Homo sapiens: one gene and its partners. The protein of the gene in region 1 purifies or fractionates together with the protein of each later gene. This does not show direct contact. Each region holds a gene or a part of one and is shown on either strand. Other genes may lie near its edges.

Evidence for each region.
Region 2: the proteins of JADE3 (region 1) and BRD1 purify together in Homo sapiens (affinity purification with mass spectrometry, with the first as the bait; one large-scale study listed by BioGRID). This does not show direct contact.
Region 3: the proteins of JADE3 (region 1) and KAT6A purify together in Homo sapiens (affinity purification with mass spectrometry, with the first as the bait; one large-scale study listed by BioGRID). This does not show direct contact.

What each region holds. Positions count from the first base shown.
Region 1 is NC_000023.11:47,051,909-47,055,560, forward strand, and holds part of JADE3 (protein Jade-3), read left to right. Parts: intron 1-2,249; coding exon 2,250-2,720; intron 2,721-3,652. UniProt on the Homo sapiens protein: Scaffold subunit of some HBO1 complexes, which have a histone H4 acetyltransferase activity.
Region 2 is NC_000022.11:49,817,826-49,821,477, reverse strand, and holds part of BRD1 (bromodomain-containing protein 1), read left to right. Parts: intron 1-491; exon of another isoform or gene 492-644; intron 645-3,094; coding exon of another isoform or gene 3,095-3,256; intron 3,257-3,652. UniProt on the Homo sapiens protein: Scaffold subunit of various histone acetyltransferase (HAT) complexes, such as the MOZ/MORF and HBO1 complexes, that acts as a regulator of hematopoiesis.
Region 3 is NC_000008.11:41,936,858-41,940,509, reverse strand, and holds part of KAT6A (histone acetyltransferase KAT6A), read left to right. Parts: intron 1-2,941; coding exon 2,942-3,254; intron 3,255-3,652. UniProt on the Homo sapiens protein: Histone acetyltransferase that acetylates lysine residues in histone H3 and histone H4 (in vitro). Component of the MOZ/MORF complex which has a histone H3 acetyltransferase activity. May act as a transcriptional coactivator for RUNX1 and RUNX2.

The DNA of each region.
Region 1 (3,652 bases):
AATTGGTGAAACCCCGTCTCTACTAAAATACAAAAATTAGCAGGACTTGGTGGCGCACGCCTATAATCCCAGCTACTCACAAGGCTAAGGTGGGAGGATCACTTGAGCCTGGGAGGCAGAGGTTGCAGCGAGCCAAAATCGCGCCACTGCACTCCAGCCTGGGCAACAGAGTGAGACCCAGTCTCAATCAATCAGTCAGTCTTTGGAAGGAAAGCTGTAACATTGTAACCATAACAAATAGTAATTAAGGCTAACTGAAGCACAGGAGTATAGTAGTCATGGGCCAGGTCCTTCCCCCTTTGCCCCCCCCTATGAATAGTCAGTACATACTGCATAGTAATGCTTAATAAATGTGTTAAATCTATGACTGAATGGCAGAATATTATAAACTTAATTTCAGATTGTCTGTAACCATATTGTTCAATAGAACTTTCCACAGTGGGCCAGGCACAGTGGCTCACACCTGTAATCCCAGCACTTTGGCATGCTGAGGCGGGCGGATCACCTGAGGCCAAGCATTCGAGACCAGGCTGGCCAACATAGTGAAACCCTGTCTCTACCAAAAATACAAAAAAATTAGCCAGGTGTGGTGGCAGGCACGTGTAGTCCCAGCTACTTGGGAGGCTGAGGCAGGAGAATCACTTGAACCCTGGAGGTGGAGGTTGCAATGAGCCGAGATTGTGCCACTGCCCTCCAGCCTCAGCAACAGAGTGAGACTCTGTCTCAAAAAAAAAAAAAAAAAAAAAAAAAACTTTCCACAGTGATGGAAATGTTTTATGTCTGTGCTGTCTAGTGTAGTTAAAATGTGGCTACTGTGACTGAGAAACTAAATTTTTTAATTATACATAATTTTAATTAAATTTAAGGCTAAGCGCAGTGGCTCACACCTGTAATCCCAGCACTTTGGGAGGCTAAGGCAGTCAAATCACTTGAGGTCAGGAGTTTGAGACCAGCCTGACCAACATAGTGAAACCCCATCTCTACTAAAAATACAAAAATTAGCCGGGCATGGTGGCACATGCCTGTAATCCCAGCTACTCGGGAGGCTGAGGCAGGAGAATTGCTTGAACCTGGGAGGCAGAGGTTGCAGTGAGCCGAGATTGCACCACTGCACTCCAGCCTGGGTGACAAAGTGAGACACCGTCTAAAAAAATTTTTTTAAAAAATGAAATAGCCACTCATGGCTACTTGGCCACCAAGTTGGACAGCTCAGTTCTATAACAACAATTTCACGGGGCATGGTGGCTCACACCTGTAATCCCAACGCTTTAGGAGGCTGAGGCTGGTGGATCACTTGAGCCCAGGAGTTCAAGACCAGCCTGAGCAACATAGATTCTCTATTTTTAAATATTTTAAAAAATTCTTTTTGAGATAGGTTCTCACTCTGTTGCCCAGGCTGGAGTACATTGGTGTGATCTCGGCTCACTGCAGCTTGGACCTCCCGGGTTCAGGCAATTCTCATGCCTCAGCCTCCCAAGTAGCTGGGACTACAGACATGCACCACCATGCCCAGAAAGCTTTTGTATTTTTAGTAGAGACAGGGTTTCGCCATGTTGCCCAAGCTGGTCTCGAACTCCTGGCCTCAAGTGATCCACCTGCCTTGGCCTCCCAAAGTGCTGGGATCACAGGCGTAAGCCACTGTGCTCTGGCCTAAAATTTTTATGTTTAAAAAAAAAATTCAAGAAGTTAGGTTACTTAGATATTGGAATTCCTATGACTTTTTTAGAACCAGTGGATGCTCTAGCAATAATACTCACTTTGTGTGTTTTCTTTTGTTTGTTTAGAAACATTTTCTGAGCAACTGCTTCTTCAATAGTTAATGACGATGCAAAATGAAAGACACAGCTTCTGTTTTTAAGATCTATCCCTAAGGACTTGACAATTGTTATAGGTACAGTGTGAAAAGTACCATTTTAAAAGCATTCATAGGGTGATGTGGGAGACACAGAGAAGAGACTACATGACTGTTTACAGGAGCCCAGGAAAGCATCTCAGAAAACTTGATGCTTGAATGCTTGAGCTGAAACCTCAAAAGGAGTGTTTGAATTATTTTTGGCCTCTGTGTTTGCTGTTTTCTGTAAGAACAGGTTTCTTGGGTTACTTGTAAAGCATCTGTTATGGTCAGTTTAGGACTAACTTTCTCCCGGTCTTTCTTTTGCTTCCTACAAGCTATCAATTTAGGTCCAGAAACATAGGTCTCTCCCTTTTCCTCCAACTCTGCTACCTTGACACCTATTTTCTTCCTACAGTGCTCTATAAAAAGCTGCATCACTGCCTTCCACGTCACCTGTGCCTTTGAGCACGGCCTAGAGATGAAGACCATCCTAGATGAGGGAGACGAAGTGAAGTTCAAGTCATATTGCCTCAAGCATAGCCAAAACAGGCAGAAACTTGGAGAAGCTGAGTACCCCCACCACAGGGCTAAAGAGCAGAGCCAGGCCAAAAGTGAGAAAACCAGCCTGCGGGCACAGAAGCTTCGGGAGCTGGAGGAGGAGTTCTATTCCTTGGTACGAGTGGAAGATGTGGCCGCAGAGCTGGGTATGCCCACGCTAGCTGTGGACTTTATCTATAACTACTGGAAACTGAAGCGGAAAAGTAACTTCAATAAGCCATTATTTCCTCCAAAGGAGGATGAAGAAAATGGGCTGGTGCAGCCAAAAGAGGAAAGCATTCACACTCGAATGAGAATGTTTATGCATCTACGCCAGGACCTGGAGAGGGTAAGGTGACCAGCTGTGACTAGTATATAGGCCTCGGTCTGTGTAGAAATGGAGGTCCCACTTCTGGTTTAATAATGGTCAGTCAGCTCATAATAGTGTGGGCTTCTGTGTCCTTGCTTATCTTCTGATCTCTTTATGGCCCCAGACATTGGGCTCTGTGTAAATTCTGACAGGCACATCCAGGGGATTTGGGAGGCCTCGGGTATATGCTCTATGAACTTTACATTTGAAATAAACTCTCATTTGGTTTACTTTTTATTCACTGTTGAGCCTAAATTGGCCCATCCATATTTTACTGACATATTTATGAGACTTTAGGCTGAAGAAAGAGTGAATTTTGTTCAGGAAAACACCAAATTAGAGTTTCACAAACTTGGCACTGTTGACATTTTGGACTGGATAGTTGTTTGTTGTTAGGGGGCTGTCCTTTGTTGTAGGGGCAATTTAAGATGTTTACCAGCATCCCTGGCCTCTACCCACTAGATGCCAGTAGCACCCGCACACACACCCCCAGCGTGACAACCAAAAATGTCTGCAAATTACCAAATTTGCTCTCCAGTTGAGAGCCACTCCACATGATAATTCAATATAACTCATGGTATATTTATCAGGTATCTACTAAATGAGATACTGCAGGGCTTCAAAGGTAAGTTAAGCCCTGTGTTTATCCTAGAGAATTTTCTAATTAAATGTAAATCTATAAATGGCTTGTGTTTTTTTTTCTCTGCTACCAGAATTTGAAAGAGAACTAATAGATTTGGCTCACTTTTAAAAATTTAAGACACTCACATATAGCACCTACTATTACTATTATTGCCAACACTGTCCTAAGCATTTTATAAATATTAATTCATTTAATTCTAACATGCCCATGAAAAACTATTATTATCATCATCACTATTTACAGATGAACAAACTGGGGCAAAGAAAGT
Region 2 (3,652 bases), on another chromosome or scaffold:
TTCCCATCCAGGGAAAACCCTGTCAAAACCAAGGTGTTTGTCTTTGTAAATTAATCTGACTTTGAAGAGATGGTTTTGCTTGGATTTCTACCTATGAGTCAAAAAGTCTAGGGTTTGTATTAAGAGCTTCTGTATAAGAGGTCTAAAAATTTCAGCTTTACTGAAATTGAAGCAAAATAAACAAAATGTGATCTAACAAAATGAAGAGCCAAAAGTCTGAAGTGCTCCCTTCCCTGGCCAGTACCAGATGATGACCTGCTCTGGGAGAGGCCGGGCCTGGCCGGGCCGCACGCTCTCTGTTCTTTGGCTCCTGATGTTGGGTAGGCAGGACTGAAGGAGGCAGTGTTTGCATGCAGGACATGGGGGCTGAAGTGGCCAGGGCTGATTGAGAAGAAAACTCGACCTAAATATTTGAAAGCATGTATTGGAGCTAAACCGCGTACTGTGTGGTTCTGTTCTTTTCCTAACTTGGGAATAAACTATTATTTCAGCTTCGAGTAGAGAGAGAGAAACAAACCTGGACGAGTGTTCCTGGCCGCGGTCTCTGCAGTCTGGGTTTCCCAGTCTCCAGGAGATGCTGGTGCTTCAGGCCACCTTGCCACCAGTGGAGGAGCTCCCAGTGCGCCTGGCCTGTTGGCACCATGGTGCTGGACCCACCTCTGGGGTGGTTGTGAGGGGCAGGCTCTCAATACAGTACTGACTGCTGCCTGAAACCGGGTTTACTGCCTTGCTGTGGTCTGAGAGGCAGCTGATCTGGCAGCCCTGTTCTTAGGCCCTGGGCACTACCCCTGGGTGCATGTAGGAGGCCTCAGCTGTGCATTTGAATTCTGTGTAGATGAGGGTGAAGCTTCTTATTTTTTATTTTATGTTTAGAGACAGGGTCTTGTTCTGTTGCCCACGTTGGAGTGCAGTGGCGTGATCATGGCTTACAGTAGCCTCAAACTCTTGGACTCAAGCGATCTTCCCGCCTCAGCCTCCTCCCAGCCTCAGCTGGGAATACAGGCACGAGCCACTGTGCCTGGCCCATGGTGAAGCTTCTTGATGTGCAGCCGTGGGCGGGGATGCTGAGTCTAGTTGGTTATGGTGTGCACTAACCAATGGCTCCGGTGTAGGACCCACCTAGAGCATCTGAGGATGTTATGCTTCAGGCCAGCCAGTCACGCTGGAAGGGAGATGAGACCCCATCTGAGCAGCGTTTTAGAGATTTTAGAGAAAGAGGATCTTCCTTATTCCCTGTGGACAGAACAGAATCTGCCTTCAGGGACGGACTGCTTTTATAATTCTAGTGGTTTAAAAAATTAAAATTTCAAGTAAAAAAGATAGTTCTTTTTTTTCCCCCCTTTTTTTTGAGGTGGAGTCTTGCTTTGTTGCCCAGGCTGCAGTGCAGTGCGGTGATCTTGGCTCACTGCAACCTCCACCTCCTGGGTTCAAGTGATTCTCCTGCCTCAGCCTCCTGAGTAGCTAGGATTACAGGCACCTGCCACCACACCCGGCCGATTTTTGTATTTTTAGTAGAGACGGGGTTTCACCATGTTGGCCAGGCTGGTCTTGAACTGCTGACCTCAGGTGATCCACCCGCCTCGAACTCCCAAAGTGCTGGGATTACAGGCGTGAGCCACTGCGCCAGGCTAAAAGAGATAGTTTTAAGGTTATAATCTGTTTTTTTGTAAGTTTGATATACTATGATTAAATAATAACAGCGGTAAATAAACACTTTGAAAAACAGGCAGGGCTGGGTGTGTGGCTCACACCTGTAATGCCAGCACTTTGGGAGGCCGAGGTGGGTAGATCACGAGGTCAGGAGTTCGAGACCAGCCTGGCTAACATGGTGAAAACCCATCTGTACTAAAAATATAAAAATTAGCCAGGCGTGGTGGTGCGCGCCTGTAATCCCAGCTATTCAGGAGGCTGAGGCAGGAGAATCTCCTGAACAGAGTCCTGCTCTTCTGCTCAGACGGGTGCAGTGGCATGGTTATGGCTCACTACAGCCTCGACCTCCTGGGCTCAAGCGACTCCCCCACCTCAGCCTCTTGAGTAGCTGGGACCACAGGCATGTGCCACCATGCCCTGCTAATGTTTTTATTTTTTGGTGAGATGGGGTCAAGCAATCTGCCTGCCTCGGCCTCCCAAAGTGCTGAGATTACAGGCGTGAGCCACCATGCCTGGCCTTACATTGATTTATTGTTATTTTTTCTTTTCTGTTCTTCTTTTTTTTCCTGAGATGAAGCCTCGCTCTGTTGCCCAGGCTGGAGTGCAATGGCATAATCTCGGCTCACTGCAGCCTCCACCTCCCAGGTTCAAGCGATCCTCGTTCCTCAGCCTCCCGAGTAGCTGGGACTACAGGTGTGTGCCACGGTGTCTGGCTAATTTTTGTATTTTTTTTGTAGAGATGGGGTTTCACCATGTTGTCCAGGATGGTCTCAAACTCGTGACTTCAGGTGATCTGCCTGCCTTGGCCTCCCAGAGTGCTGAGATTACAGGCGTGAACCACCGCACCCAGCCCTATTTTTTCTTTTCACTTCCTCTCTCCAGCATACATCAGTTTTTATTAACGGATTGAGTTGCACCTGTATAGAATGACATTTTTTTTTTGAGACGGAGTCTTGCTCTGTCACCTAGGCTGGAGCGCAGTGGCACGATCTCGGCTCACTACAAGCTCCACCTCCCGGGTTCACGCCATTCTCCTGCCTCAGCCTCCTGAGTAGCTGGGACCACAGGCGCCCACCACCACACCTGCTAATTTTTTGTATTTTTAGTAGAGACGGGGTTTCACCATGTTAGCCAGGATGGTCTTGATTTCCTGACCTCGTGATCCATCTGCCTCTGCCTCCCAAAGTGCTAGGATTAGAGGCGTGAGCCACCGAGCCCGGCCAGGAGGACATTTTGTCTTTAGTCTTAAAGGAAAAGGGAAAGTCTTTTCCATTTGCACCAGTTTGAAATTAGGGCTCCCTTAACATGGATTACTGCAGGACTCATTCACATGAGAGTTCATACATGGGGTGAAAAGACAAACAGGGTTTCCTGATAACTCTTTTTGGTTATTGCATGAAATGAGGGATAAATACACGCATAATCTGTTTAACAAAACTCCTAGGTTCATCAGAATGCAAAGTAGAAAGTGTCTTAAAAGAGACTGTGATCAGCAGGCAGACGGCCTGTGTCGGTTTGGTTCCTTTGACTGCTTCAGATCTTCTAGGAGGAGCTCCTCTACTACGAGAGCCTGGACTTCAGCCTCACGGACAAGAACCTCAGATAGGCAAGGCTTTGTGATGGGTGCTCCTCCTACCTTCATTCGAATGAGGTTTTCCTCCCGCCTTCACCCTGATAGGGTGCTCCTCCCGCCTTCACTGGTGTCATTTTATTTTGAGTTTAAAAGGATGAACTGGTCTTGGTCAGCCTTAGGAAGGGAAGCATCACTCAGGTGAAAATACGTGGCGAACTTTAAATACCTAGATATTCTCCTCATGCATTTAAATTAGAGTGACTTGAGCTGTTAGAAAAGTTGACTGGGTGCGGTGGCTCAGGCTAGTAATCCTAACACTGGAAGGCTGAGGTGGGTGGATTGCTTGAGCCCAGGAGGTCGAGGCTGCAGTGAGTTGTGATCGCACCTTTGTATTCCAGCCTGGGTGACAGAGTGAGACCCTGTCTCTAA
Region 3 (3,652 bases), on another chromosome or scaffold:
TTTAAAAGATATTTTTAAAGTATGTACAGATTAGAAGTGTTTATATTAGAAAAGGAGGCCAAAATATTACATAATTAATTGGAAAGTGAACATAGTGCTGCCCTATATTTTGGGGTACTCAGAGTACAGTAGCTCATCTTGGGTGCTATTGTTTTCTCTCTACTCTCCCCACTTCTCACACATCCCTCCAGTGGTTTAACGTGGTCTCTCTTGCTTTAAAAATATTTTCTAAACTATATTCCATCATAATGATAGCCAATTAGTTATTAAATAATGTACAATGATGATAATGAATTCTGTTAAGCCGTTTACCAGAAACATCCCAGGCTATGGAGTGGATTTTAAGCATTGCCAGGAGGCAGCCAGACTGAAGCGAGGCTGCTCCCTGGAAGAGCCACTCAGCCAGCTTCCAGCCAAAGCAGCACAATCGTTCCTTTCCTTACAGGGTCTTAAAAAGCAAGACAGGATCTTTTGTTTTGTTTTGTTTTGTTTTAAGAATAATATCTTCAGAGCAGTTTTACATTTACAGAATTAATGCAAAGAAAGTACAGAGAGTTCTCGCATACCCCAGCCAGTTTCCTCTATTATTAATCCCTTGCGTTGGTGTGGTACATCTATCACAGTTACTGAACCAGTGTAGATACATCAGTAACTAGAGTTCATACTTTATTCAGATTTCCATAGTTTTCCCTAACGTCCTTTTTCTGTTCCAGGATCCCACCCAGCATATCGCATTACATTTAGTAGTCATGTGTCTTTAGGTTCCTCTTGGCTGTGGTAGTTTCTCAGAATTTCCTTAGTTTCGATGGCCTTCATAGTTTTGAGAATGACTGGTCAGGTATTTTGTAGATGATCCCTCATGATATTAGAATGGGGTAATATATTCTTGAGAGGAAGACCATAGAGGTAAAGTGCCATTCTCATCACATAATTAAAGGGTACCTGTTGGCATATATCTATCAGTATGTATAGGGAAGCTGGGCATAGTGGTCACTCTTGTAATCCTAGCTACTTGGGAGGCTGAGGCGGGAGGATCACTTGAGCTGGAGGCTGTAGTGCACAATGATTGTACCTGTAAATAGCCACTGTAGTCCAACCTGCGTGACATAGCAAGACTCCGTCTGTAAAAATAAAAAGAAGCAAGTATCAAATATAAGGGTATTATCAATTTGATTTTTCCCTATTGAAGTTAACTTTGATGACCTGGCTTAAGATATTGTTTGTCAGGTTTCTACTTTTCTTTTCCCTTTACTGGAAGGAAGTCACTGTGCATAGCCACACTTAAGATTTCTACCCCCTCAGAGTGGAGGCTCAGCATAAATTATTTGAATTTCTGCTTGGGAGATTTGTCCTTTCTCCCTCATCTGTTTATTTATCCAAGCATTTATTTATATCATTATTGGCCCAGATATTTACGTGATACTTCACTTTATAATCCAATACTACTGCTTTTTAAAATTTGTTGCTCAGATTGTTCCAGTTTTGACCATTAGAAGCTCCTTCTTTTAGTTTCCCTCTTGGGCTGCTGCTGCTTTTTTTTTTTTTTTTTTTTTTTCCTTCCCCAGATGGGGTCTTACTCTGTCACCTAGGCTGGAGTGCAGCGGCATGATCTCAGCTCACTGCAACCTCCACCTCCTGGGATGCAAGCAACGCTCCCACCTCAGCCTCTTGAATAACTTGGACTACAGGCATGTTCCATCACGCCTGGCTAATTTTTTGTACTTTTGATAGAGACAGGGTTTCGCTATGTTGCTCAGGCTGGTCTTGAACTCCTGAGCTTGGGCGGTCCACCTGCCTTGGCCTCCAAGGTGCTGGGATTACAGGTGTGAGCCACCGCGCCTGGCCTCCTGTGTTTAACATATATACTGTTGTTGTCATTGTGGGGTCTTTTTGTTTGTTTTTAAGCATTTCCTTTCTGGCACTACAAGATGCTTCAAGTTCATCTTGTATATTTCATGCCCTTGTCCTAGAATCAGCCTTTTCTCCAAGGACCAGGGCCATTTTTAATCTAATTTGAAAATTACATTCTCGATTGGGACTATTAAGTTTGAAGTAGAGAAAAATTGAACATTGACTAACTGCTGTTCATTGCATGATCATGAAGAATAGATCTTTGTCATCCTAGCACTTGTATTGCCAATTTATGAAGTAAAACAAATCATGTTAAAAAAAGAAAAAGAACAGGCAGTAAGCTCACATGCAAAGTAATTTTGAAGTTAATGAATAAATGCTTTGACTGGATGTGTGAACTTAAGCAAGTCCTATACCCTCTCTGACATCTATAGAATGAAGGGATTGGATTAGATAATCTCTGGGGCATCATCTCTTATTTTGTGATATTAGTTGTATAATTTTAGCTATTTGGTCAGTCCAGTGCAAAGTTGTGCTCAGTGTGCCCAAATTTCAGTAACAGATTTATTTTACTTTTGAAATATTTCACTAACACTGAGTAAATACATTTCAGCCCCATATTTCTACATTCCACAGCTTTTTATGAGTAGTTCATGAAAATGGCATACAACTTTACTGATAGTTCTGCAAACCTTCACAGTAGTGCTATAAGACAAAGTGTTTTTATTTCTCTTTTGCTCTTAAGTTGGAAAAGTTAAGGGATTAGCCTCTGGGTCAGTTCAGTATTAAAACAGGGCAACTCTCTAGGGTGCTAAATTTAACTGAACTATTAAGAGAATTATAATGTCTGCTATTTGGAGATGGCTGCCTATTCTTTTACAAAGTTGTGTTCAATTGCCTAATACCTTTGTATTTATAATAAGTGTATTATCTTACTATAGTATTTTGAAATAATATTCAAAATATTTTTTGGCAAACAACATCCTCATTTTATATGTGCTAATTCTATTTGGTTTTAAAACTGTTTTCGTATTATTAATAGAAAAGATAGTGTTCATAACTGTAAATACTTGCTTTCTCTATTAAACAGAAACCATTTCTCCACCGAAGGAGGAGAGTCCGAAAGCGCAAACACCACAATAGCAGTGTAGTCACAGAAACTATTTCTGAGACCACTGAAGTGTTAGATGAACCTTTTGAAGATTCTGACTCCGAGAGGCCAATGCCAAGATTAGAACCCACGTTTGAGATCGATGAAGAAGAGGAGGAAGAGGATGAAAATGAACTTTTCCCTAGAGAATACTTCCGTCGTTTGTCTTCGCAGGATGTACTCAGGTGTCAGTCCTCTTCTAAGAGGAAGTCTAAAGATGAAGAAGAAGATGAAGAGTCAGATGATGCTGATGGTATGTTTTACAGAACTCACTTACTGTGGTTTATTGTCTTCAGATATATAGCAGTAGCAGTGACAGACCCTTCAGTAAAAAGGCTGAAAAATGAACACAACCCACTAAGCAAGAAAAGGAACGTTTGGCAATCTCTAAAAAGTTGTATCAAGTATATCCATCTTGATTTTTAAATGTGTTTTCCCTTCAACTCAGAACCTCTATTAATTTGCCTCTGCAGAAAATATCTTACTATTAGGCAACTGTTCTTTTTTGCCCAATCCTTTCTAAGCCTTTATCAGAATCTTTAGTTAATGGGAGAGTTGGACTTAGCATCAGGAAGATGTAATAACCCTTCACTAGAATGTGCATTCTCTAGACTTAGTCTGTTTTGCTCATTGCTGTATGCTGAGTGCTTA